Linked DNA regions of Homo sapiens. The protein of the gene in region 1 purifies or fractionates together with the protein of each later gene. This does not show direct contact. Each region holds a gene or a part of one and is shown on either strand. Other genes may lie near its edges.

The links.
Region 2: the proteins of POLR2G (region 1) and GPN1 purify together in Homo sapiens (affinity purification with mass spectrometry; 6 studies listed by BioGRID and IntAct, with this or other methods). This does not show direct contact.
Region 3: the proteins of POLR2G (region 1) and MED26 purify together in Homo sapiens (affinity purification with mass spectrometry; 8 studies listed by BioGRID and IntAct, with this or other methods). This does not show direct contact.

The regions. Positions count from the first base shown.
Region 1 is NC_000011.10:62,756,708-62,764,597, forward strand, and holds the start of POLR2G (DNA-directed RNA polymerase II subunit RPB7), read left to right. Parts: upstream 1-4,872; 5' UTR 4,873-4,941; coding exon 4,942-4,953; intron 4,954-5,087; coding exon 5,088-5,197; intron 5,198-6,159; coding exon 6,160-6,319; intron 6,320-7,890. UniProt on the Homo sapiens protein: Core component of RNA polymerase II (Pol II), a DNA-dependent RNA polymerase which synthesizes mRNA precursors and many functional non-coding RNAs using the four ribonucleoside triphosphates as substrates.
Region 2 is NC_000002.12:27,632,042-27,639,065, reverse strand, and holds part of GPN1 (GPN-loop GTPase 1), read right to left. Parts: intron 6,434-7,024; coding exon 6,396-6,433; intron 4,221-6,395; coding exon 4,142-4,220; intron 3,927-4,141; coding exon 3,832-3,926; intron 857-3,831; coding exon 811-856; intron 182-810; coding exon 35-181; intron 1-34. UniProt on the Homo sapiens protein: Small GTPase required for proper nuclear import of RNA polymerase II (RNAPII). May act at an RNAP assembly step prior to nuclear import.
Region 3 is NC_000019.10:16,618,189-16,625,212, forward strand, and holds part of MED26 (mediator of RNA polymerase II transcription subunit 26), read right to left. Parts: intron 1-7,024. UniProt on the Homo sapiens protein: Component of the Mediator complex, a coactivator involved in the regulated transcription of nearly all RNA polymerase II-dependent genes.

The DNA.
Region 1 (7,890 bases):
CTTGGCTCACTGGAAGCTCCGCCTCCCGGGTTCACGCCATTCTCCTGCCTCAGCCTCCTGAGTAGCTGGGACTACAGGCGCCGGCCACCACGCCCAGCTAATTTTTTGTATTATTAGTAGAGACGGGGTTTCACTGTGTTAGCCAGGATGGTCTCGATCTCCTGACCTCATGATCCACCCGCCTCTGCCTCCCAAAGTGCTGGGATTACAGGCATGCGCCACCACACCCGGCTAATTTTGTATTTCTAGTAGAGACAAGGTTTCTCCATGTTGGTCAGGCTGGTCTCGAACTCCCAACCTCGGGTGATCCGCCCGTCTCGGCCTCCCAAAGTGTTGGGATTACAGGCGTCAGCCACCGCCCCCGGCATATATATATATATATATATATATATATATATATATATATATATATATGTATTTTTTTAAAATAGAGATGGAAAAATAACTATTTACCAAAATCAATAAATATGTCGTGAGAATAATGGCATTGTTTTACAGGGGGGTTGGGGGGAGACACTGTTTTTCTCTCCTCTCACACCACCACAACAATCAACAAAGAAGGCTACTGTGTGACCAAATGTGTTGGTTTTTTCCCCAGTCCACAAGCAAGCAGTTCCAGCTGGGTGTCCTCTTGTTTAATGCCAACACTGTCTACCTGGAGATAACCTCAGATCTCAAATGTTTAGGGTGCAGATCTCAAGACCGCCCTCCCCACCGGCCCCCCGGTACTAGTTTCTTTTCTCTCCTTTTTTCTTTTATTTCTTTTCTTTTCCTTCCTTTTCTTTTCCTTTCTCCTTCCTTCCTTCCTTCCTTCCTTCCTTCCTTCCTTCCTTCCTTTCTTTCCTTTCTTTCTATTTCTTTCTTTGTCTCTTTATTTGTCTCTCTCTGTCTCTCTCTTTCTTTTCTCTCTCTCTTTTCCCCTTTTTCTTTTCTTCTTTCTCTCTCTTGTCTCTCTCTTTCCCCTGCCTCCCTCCCTCCCTCCCTTCCTTTTTTTTTTTTTTTAAATCAAATTATTGTTTACCAGACATGGCCCCTGACTTCTGATGCTAGTCAAAAGCCCCAGGCTGTTTTACCTATGCCTCTGACTGACCAGCTGTAAATCTAGGCCCCCACAACTCTACTTGGGCTTGGTTAACTTGCTAGGGTGGCTCATAGAAATCAGGGAAACACCTACTTACCTTTACTGGTTTATTATAGAGGCTATTTGAAAGGATGCAGATGAAGAGGTGCCTAGGGTGAGGTATGGGGGAAGGGATGTGGAGCTTCCGAGCCCTCTTCCGGTGTGCCACCTTCCAGGAACCTCCAGGTGTTCAGCTATGTGGAATCTCTGAACCCAGTCCTTTTGGATTTTTGTGGATGCTTCATTATGCAAGCATGACTGCTGAAACGATTGGCCATTGGTGATCAACTCAACAGTTCAGCACCCCCTCCACTCCCCAGAAGTTGGGGGTGGGCTGAAAACCCCAACCTTCCAATCATGCCCTGCTCTTTATGGTGACCAGCCCCCATCCGGAAGCTACCTAGGGCCTGCCAGCCATCAGTTAACATTAGCATACCAAAAAAATCACTTTAGAGATTTAGGAGTTGTATGGCAGAAAATAGGGTCAAAGAAACGTATATTTCACAATATCACACTGTTTCGATAGGAGACAGCTCGATTTTCACATCTGCTTCTATTAGCTATTAGGATATATTGTTTTGATTGAAATACATGAAGAAAATTTGGTCTCACACAGACATGTAACTAGAAGAGCACTTCACCAATCCCCTGAAAGGTTCTTTTGGGGACCACAACTTCAGAATTGCTGTTCTGAGCTTTCAGGCTCTACGTGCACACACTTTGAGGAGCAGACACAACAATCCTTGTCATTGCTTTGGTGTCTTTTTTATCCAAAGTTTCAGTCTCAGGCAGTAGAGTTTACAGTAGTGAAGAATGCGACTTTCCCAGGTGTGAGGGCTCACACTTGTTATCCCAACACTTTGGGAGACAAAAGCAAGAGGATCACTTGAGGCCAGAAGTTCAAGACTAGCCTGGTCAACAGAGTAAGACCCACATCTCTGCAAAAAATAAAAAATTACCCGCGCATGGTGACCCATACCTGTAGCTGGGGAATGCAATGAGCACTCCAGCCTGGCAGCCTGGGTGACAGAATGAGACCCTTTCTCAAGAAAAAAAAAAGGTGGGGCCGGGCGCAGTGGCTCAGGCCTGTAATCCCAGCATTTTGGGAGGCTGAGGCAGATGGATTACCTAAGGTCAGAAGTTCGAGACCAGCCTGGCCAACATGGTGAAACCTGGTCTCTACTAAAAATACAAAAAAAAAAAAAATTAGCTGGGCGTGGTGGTGGGCGCCTGTAATCCCAGCTACTTGGGAGGCTGAGGCAGGAGAATCACTTGAATCTGGGAGGCGGAGGTTGCAGCGAGCCGAGATTGCACCACTAAGTTCCAGCCTAGGCGACAGAGTGAGACTCCAACTCAAAAAAAAAAAGAAAGAAAGAAAAAAGAAAAAAAAAAGGAACACAAGCTTTGGAGCAGGTCAGCTATTCATACCCAAATACCTCCCCTTAATCTTTTTCTGGCTTATGTATAAGGTAGGAATAATAATAGTATCAGTGTCAACCTAAAATAATCCGACGGGTCAGAACCTAATTTAGAGTTTTTTCAAGTGCGAAGTATGAGAATGGAACACCTGGAACCACCAACTCCAGAAGAATGGAGTCAGTGTTGTGAAGTAAGAAAGTTAAGATTTCATTTATATAGGCAAGCACACATGACTTTTTAGCAGGATTACATTTTTCACAGAAGATTGGTACATAGTTATAGCAATTTGGTTGGCTATAGACAATGTTTCTTTTTGGGAAGTATACATGTAACTTTTTTTTTCCAATTTTTTTTTATTTGGAGTTTCGCACTGTTGCCTGGGCTGGAGTGCAGTGTCAAGATCTTGCCTAACTGCAACCTCCGCCTCCCGGGTTCAAGACATTCTTCTGCCTCAGCCTCTGGAGTAGCTGGGATTACAGGCACCTGCCACCACACACGGCTAATTTTTTGTATTTTTAGTAGAGATGGGTTTTCACTATTTTGGCCAGGCTGGTCTTGAACTTCTGATCTCGTGATTTGCATGTAACTTTTTTTTTTTTTTTTTTTTTTTTTTTTTTTTTTTTTGAGAGGGAGTCAGCCGGGCGCGGTGGCTCACGCCTGTAATCCCAGCACTTTGGGAGGCCGAGGTGGGCGGATCACCTGAGGTCGGGAGTTCGAGACCAGCCTGACCAACATGGAGAAACCCCGTCTCTATTAAAAAAAAAAAAAGAGAGAGGGAGTCTTGCTCTGCATCCCAGGCTGAAGTGCAGTGGAGCGATCTCGGCTCTTTGCAATCTCAGCTTCCCGGGTTCAAGCAATTGTCCTGCCCCAGCCTCCCCAGTAGCCGAGTAGCCGGGATTACAGGCATGAGCCACCAGTGCCCGGCGCATGTAACATTTTTTAACAGAGGATGAAATAGTCATGGATTTCCTACACTTCAGCCTGGGCGACACAGCAAGACTCCGTCTCAAAAAAAAAAAAAAAAAAAAAAAGAGTTAATCTATAATCTGAGAACAGAAGTTGTAAACTATATGTGACTCGCAGTCATATCTCTCTCGAGGCTTAAAGTGTTTTTTGGGCTTCCAATAGCTCTTAAATTTTTTTTTTTTTTTGAGACTCCGTCTTGCTTTGTCGCCAGGCTGGAGTGCAGTGGCGCGATCTCAACTCACTGCACCCTCCGCCTCCCGGGTTCAAGCGATTCTCCTGCCTCAGCCTCCTGAGTAGCTGGGACTACAGACGCCTGCCACCACGCCCGGCCAATTTTTTGTATTTTTAGTAGAGACGGGGTTTCGCCATGTTAGCCAGGATGGTCTCAATCTCCTGACCTCATGATCTGCCCGCCTCGGCCTCTCAAAGTGCTGGTATTACAGGCGTAAACCACAGCGCCCGGCCTAAATTTCATTATTTTCTGTAGCTTCTTGGCCTTTTGGCTAAGGCTCGTAAACATTTTTTTTTTATTTCTACACCAATTTCTGTAGATTATTATGAGAATTAAGGGAGAGAATTATATCAAGCGCTTAGCACAGTGTCTGGCATCTAGGAAGAAAGTAGTAAGTGATAGCATTTATTTATTTATTTATTTTATTTATTGAGATGGAGTTTCGCTCTTGTTGCCCAGGCATCTAGGAAGAAAGCAGTAAGTGGTAGCATTTATCAATCTATCTATCTATCTATCTATCTATCTATTATCTATCTATCTATCTATCTATCTATCTATCTATCTATCTATCTATCTATCTGTTGAGATGGAGTTTCGCTCTTGTTGCCCAGGCTGGAGTTCAGTGGCAAGATCTCGGGCCGCCTCCCAGGTTCAAGCAATTCAGATAGTTGCCGACCGGGCGCGGTGGCTCACTCCTGTAATCCCAACACTTTGGGAGGCCGAGGTGGGTGGATCACCTGAGGTTGGGAGTTTGAGACCAGCCTGACCAACATGGAGAAACCCCATCTCTACTAAAAATACAAAATTAGTCAGGTGTGGTGGCACATGCCTTTAATCCCAGCTACTCGGGAGGATGAGGCAGGAGAATCGCTTGAACCCGGGAGGCGGAGGTTGCAGTGAGCCGAGATCGCGCCACTGCACTCCAGCCTGGGCAACAGAGGGAGACTCCGCCTCAAAAAAAAAAGTTGTCGTTTGATGGCTGGGGGGCGGGGGTGAGGGGCGGGGCTTAGTGGTTCTCGCCCACGACGGCGAGGCCCAATCAGACCCGCGGAGCTGGTGGAGTTCCGCCCTCGCGGAGGAGGTGGTGTTCCGCCCTCCTAGTCGCAGCAAGCGCGGAACTGGGGTTGCGGCGTCTAAGTGTTTCCGGTGGATTCCCAGGGACTGTCGGAGGTGTGGACTCTGCCTGCCTACCTGGTCTGGGAAGATGTTCTACCATGTGAGCAGGGCTCAGGGTGGCGGCAAGGGCTGGGTGGAAAGGAAGAGCAAGGCCAGGCGCCGGCGCGAGACTCCCCTTGTCGTCCAATAACCTGCCAGCGCCTGGCCTGGTCGCCATCCCACTTTTCTCCGCAGATCTCCCTAGAGCACGAAATCCTGCTGCACCCGCGCTACTTCGGCCCCAACTTGCTCAACACGGTGAAGCAGAAGCTCTTCACCGAGGTGGAGGGGACCTGCACAGGGAAGTGAGTGTCGAGCTCACCGCACCGCCAGATCGTTCGATGCGCACACGGGGCGCTATACCTGCAACCCCTCCCCAACTCCTACTCGTCCTGCCACCCACTCTGGGGACCCCTCTCCTCTCTCAGGCAGCCAGTTGCTTCCTGCTTTGGGTTCCCAGGGCGCCCTCTGCAATGCTGGACAATAAGACTTCCTTCTCTCAGCTGAGATGGGTCATTCATTGACTCCTCAAACATTTTAAAAACCCTTGGTGTGTGCCAGGACCCGTGTTGGGCTCAGAACAAGGTAGAATGGGAACAAGATAGAATGAGGACAGCCCCTGTGGAGCTCACAGTGTAATCATTGTTCCTGTGTCTGCTCTCCCTCTGTCATTCTGCTGGTTTTCTCTTATCCCCTGTGCCCAGGGACCACACACCATGGGCCTCTATATATCTTCTGAATGAATGACCAGAAAAAGCAGATCGAGAGTTTGGGGGAGGAAGGAAGTAGCCTGGGATTTGACCATCTCTGGGCTTTGCACAGAGGGGCCTCTCTGATATTAATGAGCTGGGACCCAGCTCAGGGCAGTGGAGTACTTGGGCCTCCAGCATCAGAAAAACCTGCAGGAACATGCAGATTCCTGAGCCTCCTTATTCCCTACAGAATCAAGACTGTCTGGGGCAGACCTGAGAATCTGCATTTTAAGAAGATGATTCTCAGGCATCCCGAAGATTGAGATCTGTTGCCTCAAGGACTCCAGCCTTCTTGGACATTTATTGTGAAATTACCAGAACAGCATTTGGTCTTACACATACTGATCTCTGTTCTGTCTTCTTTTGGTCATTAAGCTCTCTGGGAGCAGAGGTGCTATCTACTTGTCCTTTTGCTCTCCCCGACCCTACCCCCAAGAGCTCAGCGACTTTTATTGCAGATGTCTTTAGAGGCTCTTGGACACACAGTGTCTTCCTGTTTCTCATCCTCCTTGCAGGTATGGCTTTGTAATTGCTGTCACCACCATTGACAATATTGGTGCTGGTGTGATCCAGCCAGGCCGAGGCTTTGTCCTTTATCCAGTTAAGTACAAGGCCATTGTTTTCCGGCCATTTAAAGGGGAGGTCGTGGATGCTGTTGTCACTCAGGTCAACAAGGTGAGACCATACATAGGGGAGGCAGTGGGGTAGTCTCTCGGAAGATCTGGGTTGGGTTCTGGCTCCACTTCATAACTCTGTGCCTTTGGCTAAGTCACTTCACTTTTTTTTTTTTTTTTTTTTTTTGAGAGAGTTTTGCTCTGTTGCCCAGGCTGGAGTGCAGTGGTGCGATCTTGGCCACTGCCACCTCTGCCTCCTAGGTTCAAGTGATTCTCCTGCCTCGGCCTCCCAAGTAGTTGGGACTAAAGGCACGTGCCACCATGGCCGGCTATTTTTTTTTTTTTTTGAGACGGAGTCTCGCTTTGTCACCCAGGCTGGTGTGCAGTGGCGAGATCTCCACTCACTGCAAGCTCCGCCTCCCGGGTTCACACCATTCTCCTGCCTCAGCCTCCCAAGTAGCTGGGTCTACAGGTGCCCACCACCACGCCCGGCTAATTTTTTGTATTTTTAGTACAGACGGGGTTTCACTGTGTTAGCCAGGATGGTCTCGATCTCCTGACCTCGTGATCCACCCGCCTCGGCCTCCCAAAGTGCTGGGATTGCAGGCTTGAGCCACCGCGCCCGGCCTGCACTTTCAAATTATATGGTAATCTTGCCCTGCCTAACTCAGAGGGCAAGAGAGTCAGTATTAATAGTCATAACAATAAAAGCCTGTGTTGATTGAGTAGTTACTATGGGCTAGGTGATGTGCAGAGACTCACAATGACTCTAAAAGGTGGGTTTTTTTTTTTTTTTGAGACGGAGTCTAGCTCTGTTGCCAGGCTGGAGTGCAGTGGCGCAATCTCGGCTCGCTGCAACCTCCGCCTCTGGGTTCAAGCGATTCCCCTGCCTCAGCCTCCCAACTAGCTGGGACTATAGGCATGCGCCACCATGCCCAGCTAATTTTTGTATTTTTAGTAGAGATGGGGTTTCTCCATGTTGGTCAGGCTGGTCTCGAACTCCCGACCTCAGGTGATCTGCCTGGCTCAGCCACCCAAAGTGCTGGGATTATAGGCGTGAGCCACCGTGCCCGGCCAGTGGGTGCTTTTTACAGAAGCTGAAGCTTGGAAGAAATTAAGTGTACTGGCCAAGATCATGTGGCCAACAGGTGTTCAAATCTTGGACTAACACGTCCCAGGCCTAAGCTCTTTAATACTTTAAAATGAAAGCTTAGGCTGGGCGCGGTGACTCACATCTGTAATCCCAGCACTTTGGGAGGCTGAGGTGGGCAGATCACCTGAGGGTGGGAGTTCAAGACCAGCCTGGCCAATATGGTGAAACCCCATCTCTACTAAAAATACAAAAATTAGCCAGGCATTGTGGCATGTGCGTGTAGTCCCTGCTACTCGGGAGGCTGAGGCATGAGAATCACTTGAACCTGGGAGGTGGAGGTTGCAGTGAGCTGAGATTGCATCACTGCACTCCAGAGTGGAGAACAGAGTGAGATTCTGTCTCAAAGTAAATATGTAAATAAATACAAATGAAAGCTTAAAAAAAAAGAGAAAAGGGCTGGGTGCGCTGGCTCACACCTATAATCCCAGTGCTTTGGGGGGCAGAAGTGGGAAGATTGCTTGAGCCTAGGAGTTTGAGAC
Region 2 (7,024 bases), on another chromosome or scaffold:
GAGGCTGTCAGTGTGAGCAGGAGAGAAAATTTACCCTGAGTGAGCTGTAAAACTCATCTAACACCAGGCTCATTGAACGAGTCAGGTTACTGACGTATGTAGTCTCTTGATTCAAGGCATCTTGGAAAGCCTCAAAATCCTGCATCCATTCCACTGCAAAGCTGTGGTCAATGATGTCAGTCTGTACCAGAGAGAAGTCAATTATGAGCAACCAGAGCCAACAAACGCAAAATTTATTCTTTTAATTAAGTGTTGACAGCAAAGAACATATCATCCATATATTTTCTTTCTCTGCTTCTATTTCCCCTCCATTGCAACAAGCCACAAAGAACCACAATCATTGTGTAGTCAGTGTAATTAAATGAAGATGTGTATTCTCTTGGTTGACCCTCCACTATCCACTGCCAAGTACCAGGACCAGAATGGACACCAGCACATTCTAGGCTCTGAAGTCAAAAGGTCTCTTGCATCCTAGCCATCAACCAACAGAGAAGTTTAGAATTTTTTAATTGCCACTTCCAGTAGACTAGTTGTCCCTCTCGTAATTACACAATCTTGACTCTGAGGGATAATCTACATACTGTGGTTGAAGTGCTACTCTACCTAGCCTAAAATAATTTTAGACAAGAGTTGGTAATAATTGCTCATTCAATTTGATTGATTCATTTTCTCGAAGTGCCTATGAATTTGTTTCAGTAAAGCCTGAATCTGGTCTCCAGCATCTGAAATAATCTTTCTCACCCACCTAAACCTTCTAACCACAAGGTTCTGATGAAAAATGGTGAATCACAACAGGAAGAATACACTTACTTTATTCATGACCACAATGAAAGGCAGCTTGGTTTTGTATAAGATGCTGAAAACCAAACATTGAGAAGTTATTAGTAAAAGCACATAAGCTCTTGCTCATCCAGTGTCAGCATGTCGGGACTAAGTAAGAGAACAGAAATGAGTTCAGAATCTAAAAAGTAGTCATCCATTTTTACATAACATCATATAGTCTCTGCCAACAGGAAAACAACTACCACCCAGAAGCAACACACACACTCTCACTCTTGTTTGAAGTAATAATGCCTTAATATTGAACTTGTTTTTGTTTTGTTTTTTAACCAAATTGGTATTTTTCAGAGAAGGAAATGAACATTTACTGAATACCTATTACAGGTTGAGAATTTCCTATCTAAAATACTTGGGACCAGAAGTGTTTTTTATTTCAGATTTTGGAATATTTGTAAATACTTATTGGTTGAGCATCCCAAATCTGAAAATCCAAAATCCTCCAATAACCATTTCCTCTGAGTGTCATGTCAGTGTCTAGAATGTCTCACATTTTGGAGCATTTCAGATTTCAAATTTTTGGATAAGGGATGCTCAATCTGTATAGTCTAGGCACTGTGCTAATAAGCACTTTCATAAGTATTATCTCCTTTATTCTTTACAAATAACATGTAAATATATACAATTTTTATTTGTCAATTATACCTCAATAAGGCTGGGAAAAGAATATTAAAATTTTTTTCAATCTGTAAAGTAACATCTTAAAAATGTTTCTACCCCTACCTTTATTGAGGTATAGTTGACAAATAAAAATTATATATATTTAAGGTGTACAAAGGGATATTTTGATACACAGTTGACCCTTAAACAACATAGGTTTGAACTGCAAGGTTTACTCATATGCACCTTTTCTTCCACCTCTGCCACCCAGAGACAGCAAAACCCAACCCCTACTCTTAGACTACTCAAAGTGAAGACGATTAGGATGAAGAGTTTTATGACGATCTACTTCACTTAATGAACAGTTAATATATCTTCCCCTTATTTTCTCTAGCTTTATTATATGAATACAGCATATAATACATATAATATATATGTAATGTGTGTTAATCTACTGTTTATGTTACCAGCAAGGTTTCCAATCAACAGTAGGCCTTTAGTAATTAAGTTTGGGGGGAGTCAAAGTTTTATATTTTGTAGAGATGGGGTTTCACCATGGTGCCCCGGCTGGTCTCTGCAGGGGTTGGCGCCTCTAACCCCCAAATTGTTCAAGGATCAACTGTATGTTTCATCATGAAATGATTACCAGCTGGGGGTGTGACTCATGCCTGTAATCTGAGCACTTTGGGAGGCCACGCTGGGAGGACTGCCTGAGCCCACGAGTTCAAAACCAGCCTGGGCAGCATGGCGAGACCCCACCTCTAAAAATAAATTAATTAATTTTTTTAAAAAGAAATGATTAACACTATCAGGCAAATCAAATAATTTTCTTTTAAACAATTAATATGAAAATGGGCCAGGCACAGTGGCTCATGCCTGTATTCCCAGCACTTTGGGAGGCCAAGGCGGGCAGATCACTTGAGGTCAGGAGTTTGAGACCAGCCTGGCCAACAAGGTGAAACCCCGACTCTACTAAAAATACAAAATTAGCCAAGTGTGGTGACTACTCAGGAAGCTGAGGCAGGAGAATCACCTGAACCCAGTAGGCGGAAATTGCAGTACGGTGAGATTGTGCCACTGTACTCCAGCCTGGGTGACAGAGCAAGACTCCGTCTCGAAAAAATATAAATAAATAAATAAATAAATAATTAATATGAAAATGAAATAATGCTGTCAATCTTCAGATTTCTATTTGGATCACAATTTCTTGCATCCACCAAAAAGGGACATCCCTTGTCATATCAGAAAAGACAAATGTTGGTGATGGCATTTGTGTACCCTCAAAATTAAATTCTCTCAGCTTTAATAACTGTCAGCCTTGCTCCTCAGTCTTAATGCACTAATCTAGTGAGGCATGCCCTTCCTCTGCTAATGGTGCCACATTTGGGGCAAACCAGTGCATTTTATTTTTTTGAGACAGGGTCTCACTCTGTTGCCCAGCCTGGAGTACAGTGACATCATCACAGCTCACTCCAACCTTGGCCTCCCAGGCTCAAGCAATCCTTCCACCTCTGCCTCCCAGGTAGCGGGGATTACAGGCACACACCACCATCCCTGGCTAATTTTTTGTATATTTTGTAGAGATGGGGTTTCACCATGGTGCCCAGGCTGGTCTCAAACTCCTGGGCTCAGGCGATCCTCCCACCACAGCCTCCCCAAGTGCTGGGATTATAGGCATGAGCCACCATGCCTGGCCACCTGTGCATTTTACAATTATGGATAAATCTTCTTATTCATGGTATCTCCTCATGTTACAATTTCACTCTACCAGCATCATTTAGGCCAGAGGACTCTATTCTTCTCTCTCTCTCTCGTTGCCCCAGGCTCTTGTTGCCCCAAGCCGGAGTGCAGTGGCACAATCATGGCTCACTACAGCCTCAACCACCTGAGCTCAAGCAATCCTCCCACGTCAGCCTCCCAAGTAGCTGGGACTACAAGGGCGTGCCACCACGCTGGCTAATTTTAAAACATTTTTTGTAGAGACAGAGTCTTGCTATGTTCCCCAGCCTGGTTTCAAACTCCCAAGCTCAAACGATCCTCCCACCTTGGCCTCCCAAGTGTAGGGATGACAGACCCAGCCCAGAGGACTTTATCTTTAAACTTGGATTTTATCCAACTGGGAACAACTATCAGACAGTTCATATTCATACATCACCTTTTTGTAACAACAAGGGAGGAAGATCAGAGGGTATTGAGAGAGAATGCCAACAGCACATGTGCCTCTTTTCTCCTCTGACCTTCCCCAGCTCACAGCCACTCAACTGAACAGCAAATCTGAATGAGCACAAATCCAGGGGTAAGCAACCAGATTCAAAAAAAAAAAAAAAAGAGGAAGAAGAAGAGAAAAAGGCCTTATACCTTGATGGAACACTTTCCCCACCAACAATCAATTACCTGCAGGCATAGAGCATGTTGGACATGAAGGTCACTGGGTTGGTACTTCTCGATGTGTCCATTACATAGATGACAACTGTTGGAAATGAGGATGCCTAAAGCCACAAAAAAATCAAAGCCTTGGTCAGAGGGCTCACGATCTGTCCTCAAACTCTTTTTCCACCATCCTTAACAAGGGAAAACCACTTTAGGCAGGGTGTGCAGAGCTTCTACAACTTCCTCCCATATAAAGTCCAAGGCAATTAAAAATAAATGCTCATCCAGTCTAGCCCCTCTAGCTACTCTCAGTAGCAAGTCCTAGAATACTCACAAGGGCTTCAGTGATAATTGTCCCAGAAGCTGACCAGGTGAATACCTCAATCTGTCCAGGTGTGTCAATCAACACATATCTATGTCAAGAAAGATCATTAAAGAAGTGTTACATTTGTGTTATGCTGAAGGATATTCCATCATATAAGACAATAAACATCTGGTTATCCAAGACTGGAGTAACCTCTGCACACTGCCAAATCTAACTTCCTCCTACTGGCCCTAAACTGCACATGATGATCCCCTAGACTTTGTTCAATGACCAATATTCACGCCAATGGGCAGGAACAGCAGACCATGAGTTGCTGCAAATGATCACAGGGGAAACTTTTATAGAAACACAATGCATTTAAAATGAAAGACACAAAACCAGAATGTAAATCTCTTGGGAAACATCTGGTTGCTTAGGGCGGGGGTGAGTGTGGAACAGAGGAAGAAGAATGGGAGGAATGGGAAAGTGCTAGCTGAAGAATATCAGGTTACTTCTTGAGATGATGAAAATATTCTAAAATTGACTGTGGTGATAGTTGTACAATTCTGTGAATATACTAAAAGCCACTGAATTGTATACCTTAAATGGGTGAATTGTATGGTATGTGAATTATCTCAATAAAGCTGTTTTTATGAACTATATCAACTTTTTTGTGAATTAATTTGATATAATTATGAATTATATCAGAATTTTTTTAATTGGCAAAGAATTCTAATAGACATTTCTCTAAATATATACATACCAATGGCCAATAAGTACATTAAAAAGATGTTCAATATCATTAGTTATTAAGAAAATAAAAGTAAAAACCACAATGAGATACCACTCTATATCCACTAGAATGGCTATAATCAAAAACAAGAAGAATAACAAAAGTTGGCAAGGTTATGGAGGAACTGGTTGTGGAGAAATCATATTGCCAATGGGAATGGAAAATGGGGTAGTCACTAGGGGCTAAAGGGAACAGAAAATAAGGAGTGATTGGTAATGAGTATGGGGTTTCTTTTCAGGATGACAAAAATATTCTGAAGATAGTAATTATCAACACACGACTCTGTGGACAGACTAAAACAACCATACACTTTAAACGAGTGAACTTTATGGTATATGAATTATATCTTAATAAAGCTGTCATTAAAAAAAAAAAAATACCTCCAGGCCAGGCTCAGTGGCTCACACCTATAGTTCCAGCACTTTGGGAGGTTAAGCCGGGCAGATCACTTGAGGTTAGGAGTTTGAGACCAGTCTGGCCAACATGGTGAAACCCCATCTCTACTAAAAATACAAAAATTAGTCAGGCATGGTAGCAGGCCACCTGTAATCCCAGCTACTCAGGAGGCTGAGGCAGGAGAATCGCTTGAACCCGGGATGCAAAGATTGCAGTGAGCCAAGATCACACCACTGCACTCCAGCCTAGGCAATAGAGCGAGACTCCATCCCAAAAATACAAAAATACAAAAATTAGCCAGGTGTGGTGGCTCACACCTGTAGTCCCAGCTACTTGGGAGGCTGAGGTGGGAGGATCACCTGAGCCAGGGAGGTGGAAGTTACAGTGAGCTGAGATCACTACACTGTACTCCAGCCTGGGCGACAGAGCAAGACCCTGTCTCAAAACAAAACAAAAGCTACCTCTAGTACCCCATTTTTGTAAAAGCACTTTTATCCATTCATCCTTCTATCTGTGTATATAGAAATGTGGAATGCTAGTCGCTGAATGATGATGTTACTTCTAGTGGGAATCGGGGTGATGGTTTCATCTTATAAATATCATGCATGGTTTGAATTTTTATAAAACAATAAATTATCTTTTTTAAAAAAAGTAAACCTTGAACAACAGCTAACTGGGTAATGGCCATAAGAACAAATATTTCCTATTCTGACACTCTGTAAATTAAAAAATTTTCTCTGAACCATGTAGACTATATTCATTTAAATAAGAATTAGAAAGGTATTTCAGATACTTTAATGACAACAAGCATGGTTTCCCAAGAGAAGGCAGGTGGACAACTGAATTGGGACAAAGTCTCAAAAGAGCTCCTAAGAAGCCATGTAAATTGGGGATCAAAGTAATTGAGGATGAAATGATATTAAATTTAGCTCTATATTCTAAAGCATCTTAATGATTTGCCAATTTTTTTTTCACTCCTAATGGTTTCATCTCAATCTATATTCTTTCAGAGGCTGATGGTATCCCAGATCCTCCATGAAGCCTAGAAATATGTCAGCTACAGAGTAATAAATGGGTGTTACTGACATCACTTACTTGGACATGTTCTGGGCCTTCTCAATAAATTTCATCACCTAAAAGAAAAAGATGTCAATGACAACAAATTCCGATTTCAACACAAAATCACAGAGCCCTCTCCAGGGTGGCATACCTCACAGGCACTATCACCTACTGAATCCCTCAATCACCTACTGAACATTTGCAATCTTAGGACAACAAAGAATAAACAGGCTGAACTAAAGCAACACAGCCACATCAGCAGCACTCCAATACCATCTTGGGGCACAATCCAAGGATCTGAGAAGCTGAAGACTTTGATCTGTCAATGTCAAGTTGTTATCTCTTGTCAAAATGTTAACAGCCTGTCTCATGGCCTAACATCAGAGTATAAAAACCAGTGATTATAAAACACTCTTATGGAAGTAGGTGACAAAGAAAACCTAAAGAATGACAAATATTTATCACAAGTAAAATGCCCCATCATCTTTCCATTCCATGACTGCTAGTCCATCCCACTCCCAAATACCCCCATCCCAGCTTCGGGGTAATACCACAGGCAAAGAACAGGTCAAGAAAATAACCCAGGTCTTTTGGATTTTTATTAGCTGTCACAAATATTAAATTTGAAGTGTCTGACCATACTGATCACCTTCTCATAGTCTACT
Region 3 (7,024 bases), on another chromosome or scaffold:
GAGAAGCTACAGGAGGGGCCACAGCTCTTGCCTGGGTCACAGCGCAGTCTCCTCATGACCACAGGAGGCCTGGTGGGGTTCAGGCCACCTGGACCGCACCACCTCCCCCAGCAATGAGCTCCATTCCAGGCAGTGACTGAAGCACCAGGAGAGACTGTCAAGACAGGGAGGAAAAAACAGCACCATTCAAGACTGTCTCCAGCCCAGGACAGGATCTGAAGCTGCAGCTGGCCAGCACCTGCACTCGGACAGCGTGACAGCGAGGTCCCCAAGGGTGACTACAGGCAAATGGAGTCTGTGGTTTAACCAGAACAAGAAGGTACTCACAACTCCACGCGGTGACCTCACACCAGCCAAACCACCCTGTTGCTACTCTGGACCTTACATTTCCCATTTTTTTCCCCAAAAACTCCCATTTTGCCTTCTGGAGCCAAGGCCCAACTATTTGGCGGTCACATCAGGAGAGGTGATGACATCAGTGCACATCCATGGACACTGGATCCACTATTCTTCTCCCGTTAACAGGACCTTGATGTCTCCTGGGAACATCCCCTCTATTGTGGGACTGTTTGGGTGGAACCCACAGCAGATTCAGGGGTAAGCCAATCAACTAATTCAATCAAACTGCTAATCCAATCAAAGCTCAGAGAAGGCATAAGGAAACGTTTGGTGGGGCTTCCAGCAAAGAGTCGGGAGTTCGGTGAGGGAAAATCCTGAAACTGCTGGGATGGAGAGGAAGACACCCTACTGTGTGAAGGCAACACTGCAAAAGAGGGAGACAGAAAAACCAGGTCCTCACCTGACCGCAGACTTGCCTTTGGGCCTGCATGACCATCAGCCCCTTTGTGTCTAAGCTCCTGCCACCAGCACAGTGCTAACCTCCCTTTAGGGCTGGACAGGCCACAGAATTAGTATAGGAAGTAAAGACAAGTGCTGTGCAGGCAACCAATTAACACGGAAGGAAACAATGTGAACCAATGACCACCCAAAAGGATAAAACTGTTCTTATTTTATATCCCTTCACATCAGTATCACGGGTCTCCCACTGACAGCACTGAAAAGCCAGCTTGCTGACTGCTTGCCTAGGCACCATGCAAGATGCACCTGGGAGGTGAATGGAGTTGGGCAGCATCTATAAAGGGTTCTGGAGGGCTGGCCTGCAGAACAGGAGAGCCGTTAGCTACCATGGTAACTACTACATCACCCTGGGGGGAACGAGGATGTGGCCACCTCTCCATGCCTAACTCAAGCTGGGCCAGGAACCTGATGACTAGAACGGGGGACATCAAAACAAGTCATCAAGGGGATAAGAACTTAAACCCAGTGTGTGCAGGGGGCTGCCCAGAGAGCCAATGTGACCAGGAGTGTGGGTGGGAAACAGAAGAGTGCACTACCGTGCTGAAGGCACAAGCAGGCAGTGGGGCTGCCAGGGCCTGGGAGTGCTGCCAGCCCACTGGGCTCTCGGTGTGGGCCATGGGTCACACCCACCTGAGTCCTCCCAGTAACTCACCCACTGCTGATGCCTGCACCACAGAACCCCCACCAGAGTCAAGGCCAGCCACAGCCAACGCCCTATAAAACCATGCTGTGCACCCAGCACACGAATACCCGAGTCTCCACAGCAGCCACGAGGCTGACCCACCACCAGGGTGTGGCCTGGACAAAGCAGCACCCTACTTTCTCACCATAGCAAATGAAAATCTGGGGGGATGTGTGTCCAGGAATGCCATGTTTTGTCACATGACCAAAAAAGGCCGAAGGATCGCTGGGGACCCAGGCTTCACAGATGAAGTGACATTTGAACAGTGTCTAGGGACCATGGACAGGCAGAAATCTAAGATCAAGCGCCGCCTTCTCTATTAGGGTGAAAAATACCTGACGAGAAAGAGAGGAAAACACACCTCACACCCCTTCTTCAGCCAGTTCCAGAGAAAGCACAGAGCATTTTAGTGACCACTGTCCTCCCAGTCTGGCATAAGAGCAGTGCACAGATGAATCCAGCATAAACAGCTGGACCCAGGCAAGAAAGGGGAGTGCCTGCGCAGCAAGTGCCCACTGGCCTCTCACATGACAAGGGAGGCAGCCAGCAGGTGGCTGTGTTCCAACCCCAGCCTCATCCCATCTAGCCTCCTTCCAGCTGTGTCCGCTGAGCCTCAGTTTCCTCACTAGTACCTGCCTCCTGTTTAATCTACACCTGCTATGAAGATTAAATGTGTTTTGAATGCAGGTGAAGTGCTGAAAACCGCTGGCACCTAGGACCTGCTCAGTAACGCTGACAGCCATTCCCAAAACTGGCCCTGTTTACAGTGAGAGCACCAAGCATTTGGGCACCCACGTGCTGTGGCAGTTCTAGACACTAAGGGAGCAACACCTGCTCTCCTACTTGGGCACTTCACAATCACATGGAAAATGTAACCAACAAGACCTGTTATCAGCAGGAATATAAGGTGTTAAAATGATGAATGGTTCCTGAGGGAGACGGTCTTGGATTAAGCCAGGTAAGGTTTCAGAAAAGGGAGGCAGTAGGGATGACAGGAGGCTCCCAACTGGAGGCAGCACAAAGGTCAAATTCCAGGTGTCACACACATACAGGTAAGGCCTGCTCTCAGAGTTACACTGATGCTGTTTTGATGACAAGACAGAACTTCATTTCGAAGCATGACTGGATTAGGAGTAGGTTCTGTCCTCGAATTTTCTTTAAAACAGTTACTCAAAGCACACCTGTTGTTATGTGAAGCTTCCAGAAGGTTTCTGATGATAAAAATGAACCCTCATACTCAAAAAGGTTTGGAGCCACTAGGCTAGAGGAATTTAAAGGGGGAAAAGTTGTAGGAACTGGGAAGGAATGGAATTCAAAATGTAACATGTGAAAACACTTCATGTTTGCAAGGGTACACCTTGGAAGACGCAATGGAGTTCAGCTTCCATGCTGGGCACCACCGATGTGGGAAGCGGAAGACTGTCGTAGTTAAGCCCTCTGACATCAGAACCACCCAGTGATGGATTCAGACCCAAGGCTTCTGGTTCCCTTGTCTGCAATACCAGACAAATCGGTGAATCTCTCCTAGCCCCTAAAATGAAGATGAAGCACCTACCCTAGAAGTAATTCAAAGAAGCAATGAGACACTCCACACAGTAGTGTCTGGCACTGTGTAAGTGCTCAGTAAACAGCGGCTGTTCGTCTTGCAGCCTCTGCTGCCCAACAGAGACTGCTGCTGGCACACAGGAGACCGAGCCTAACTCTGCATGCAGGGGAAACCTGATGAGCCCCCTGACGTTTTCCAAGATTCATTTTCCTGCAGTGGATGAACCCAGGAAACTTTGCTGCAGTCACAGTAACATCCAAAGGCCTTTAACCCCAATTGCCTGGCAATCCTTGGGATGTGAGTTCCCAGAGGGCTGCTGGTACTTCACCTGACATGACCCCTCTCCTTTTGAATAGGCTCCACAGAGAATCGCAGAACCTCCCGGTACTTGGATGGTCACAGAATCCAAAGGCCTATACACAGAATCCAAGGGCCTGGGTATGTCCACATAGCCATCTCACAGTGCCCCCAGACTGTGTTAAGTCAGCTCTGACAATAATCCACCACTTCCCTAAGCACATCACAGAACTCTCACCTTCCCCACCCTAGGCTTGCCTCCAAAAGCCACACAGAGCAAATCTAATCCAGAGGGTACAACAACACCCCAAATACTGAAAACCAGTGCCATGTAATGCTACCCCAAGGCCCTTCCCATTTTCTCAAGCCCAGACACCCCAACCATACCCACAGACACAGCTCGACATCTGCCTGTGCCCCATCCCACAGCAGAGAGGGAAAACTGTGCAATAATTTGCCGACTGTTCCTTCCAGCTCTGTTCCCCTCATGCCAGAGACAACGCAAGAAGAGCCTGCCTGCCTGACTACAGAACTTATTCTGAAAACCTGGATGATAGAATATACTTAAGAAAGCCATCTCATATTCTTAAGAATTCTCAACTGTTTTCAAATAAGGCACGGGGAGAACTGTTCCATTTGGACTTGAGACCTGCGGCACCATCAGGCCATCCCTGACTGCCGAGCCCACATGCCACGGCACCCCACCCAAGCTCGTTCATGACCATGCTCTATCTGCCCTCCTCCCTATGAGGCGCCAAGCCCCTTGGGCACAGGGGCTGAGCATCTTCAGGTCTGTACCCTCTACACCCAGCACACGAGCACTTGCTAATCAGTTAGTGACTGAAATGTAACTGCAGTGCCTCCCAAGGCATGGAATGTATTCAGAGAAGGCCTTTAAATACAGCATGTAGAATTATCGGTATGTCTTTCTTACTCAGGAAATGCTTCCCGGTTCAGGGAATCCCGATGGCAAATCCACACCCTGCTCTAAGAGTGAAAAGCGGCTGTTTTGGAAGGTGCTCCAAGCATGGGTGCTAGCGAGACCACACTGGAATGAAATGTGCTGCCTCTCCTTTACTCACTGTGCCACAAACTTGGCCACCCATTCTGACAACCAGCTCCTGGTCCCCAAAGGAACCAGGCAGACGTGGGACAGCCTACCACTAGGAATACAAAGGAAAAGCACAACGTGCAGTAACAAAGCACCCAGTTTCCAGAAGGAGATGATAGTGGGGAAGTGGCCAGGGGACCCCTCCCGCTGGACTGGAGTCACCTGGAGTCAGCCTGGTTAAACTAGAGCTCCATCTGAGAAGATGCTCGCAGACCCCAAAACCAAGAAAAGGAAAGCCAAGTGTCCTCCTTCACCTAAGAGACCTTGGCGCCCTTAAGCTACATGTCCTATCTTACACAGCTGCCCAGGGGCTGACGTGACCATGGTGCCTTTTTACATCTGTATCCAGAACAAAGCCCCTGACCACATGCTGGTCTTGGACAGTCCTCCAGGGCTCTGGGACCTCCAACCAGGACAACATATTCTGAGGACCACCCAGAAACCTCAGTGAGGAGAGACTGTAAAGTCCACTTTCTCCTGAGGGACAGAATGAGTCAAAGACAAGGACATACACCTGTGTCACAGGTGATACTTGCTACCTTTCCATTTCCCGAAGTCAGAGAACACCACGCTGCTCCTCTCCTGTGTCCTGGCCACAATATACAGAGTAAAGACAGGAGAGTCCCTGAATCTGGGCAATTGTGGATCAGGTGGCATTTACATGTTTGGGTTTAGGGTCCTCTACTATTTTGGATAGGGTCAGAATCAAGAGTCCTTCATTTTGCAATTTACACCATTCTGCTTTTCTGCAGAATAAATGGCATTTTAAGTTAATATCAAAAGTGCTGTAATGTTGAAGTAGAGAGCAAACTGGTCACACAGATTCATGAAAAGTTCCACATCGGTTGCTAGTTGCCACACCGTGGTCTGGCCCAGGTTTCTGTCTGTGACAGAGACCTTAAGATGTTCACGGGACAGGCTATGTCATATCACCACCCTGTTAGATGTAACATAGGTAAATCCAGCCCCAATCTGTAATCTCACATACACTTGTAGGGGACGTTACAGGATCCTCACACGTTTTCTTACCAGCTCAAAAATGCTGCCCCCTCGTGCCTCTTCCGGAGCCATCTCTCCAACTTTCAAGGCAGCGTGGTGGTGTTCAGAGTTGAAAGGACTCTAAGGACTGTCACTTAATGACTCTGGGTAAGTCCCTAACTTTGGTTCCACCACCTCCCATTAAGTCAGTAAGAAACAAAAGCATTTTATCCTCTGCTTGCCCCTGGAGACACCCACTGAGCAGCACCTATTACCTGATGCTGCTGGCTTCTGCACCTGCAAAAGGGGAGACTGGCTCCCCCACTCACAAGGCTGTTGGGGAGAAGCAGAACTCTCTGACAGGGTGCCACACAAACTAACAAAGCATACACCTTGGTTTAGAATTTTGTTAGTTGAGAAACTTCACACAATGTACCTTGCAAAGATATATTAAAAAAAAAAAACCCCTTCTAGAACAATTGACATTAGTCTCTGCTGTCCCTTCTAGGATCTGAACTTAGATCTGGAAGGAGCTTTATGGGGTGCATACACCAGTTCCCAATCCCACCCTGTGGACAAGAAATCTGCAGGCAAACCAAGGTAAGCAACATCCAACCTTCCAATTCTTAGGTGGGAAAATGATCTTTCTTGCTGTGTCTCTCTGCAGAGTGCCTCGGTCACCTCTCCCTTGGTCTCTGTTGCCTGAAGAGCTGTGAAAAAGAAAGCAGCTCCCAAGGACGTTTCCCGCTCAGAGCCTGGCAGCTGGAGGCACTGACACACGCGGCCAGGGCTAGTTCAAGTCCCTCTTTGCTGCGGGACCTTCTCAGGCCTCTCCCTGGTCTGAACACAGGGCATTCACCTGCAGCTAGCAAGCCCTGCCCTGTGCGGTTATTTTACTTGCCATGAGGATGCAGTACACCGTCTACTATTCGTCGGACCTTTCCTCTAAAAGCTAAGTTTGTTAATCATCACTTAACATCTGTGTTCCTCACAGTTCTACTGAGTAGCATCTCAAGCCACCTGTGATTCTTCCACTCTCCAAAGTTCTGCATTAGAATATTCCACGACTGAACTCTTGGGCATAAAGTGGTCACAAAGGCTTCTTGGTAAAATGGGGCTCAAATGTAGCTCCTCAGGCACAGGTCCAAGATGGATGCTAGGGTTCAGTCAGTTTAAGCAGCAGGTAGAAAGTGTGCCTAATGCTTCTGCTCTAGAGGGAGAAGACAAGACAGGAAACATCCCCAAGAAGCTTGCGTGCTGCACAGGAAGATAAAGCTCATACCTCCACAGAACGAGTGTCCCAGGCAGATGGGAACCGAATCACCTGCTGAGGAGACTGCTCACTATGACTGCTGTGCGAGAGTAAGACACAGTCCTTCACTTTACCCACAATGCAGTGAGAGTAAGCTGGAACAATCATGCACACACTGCGCTTCGGAGAGATTTTCAACACCCTGGGCTGAAAGGGTGCACGACGAAAAGAAAAGCTCCAACTGCTCTGAAAAACTGTTAGTAGCCTTTTCAAAAGGAGAGTAGAGGATTTACTTTATTA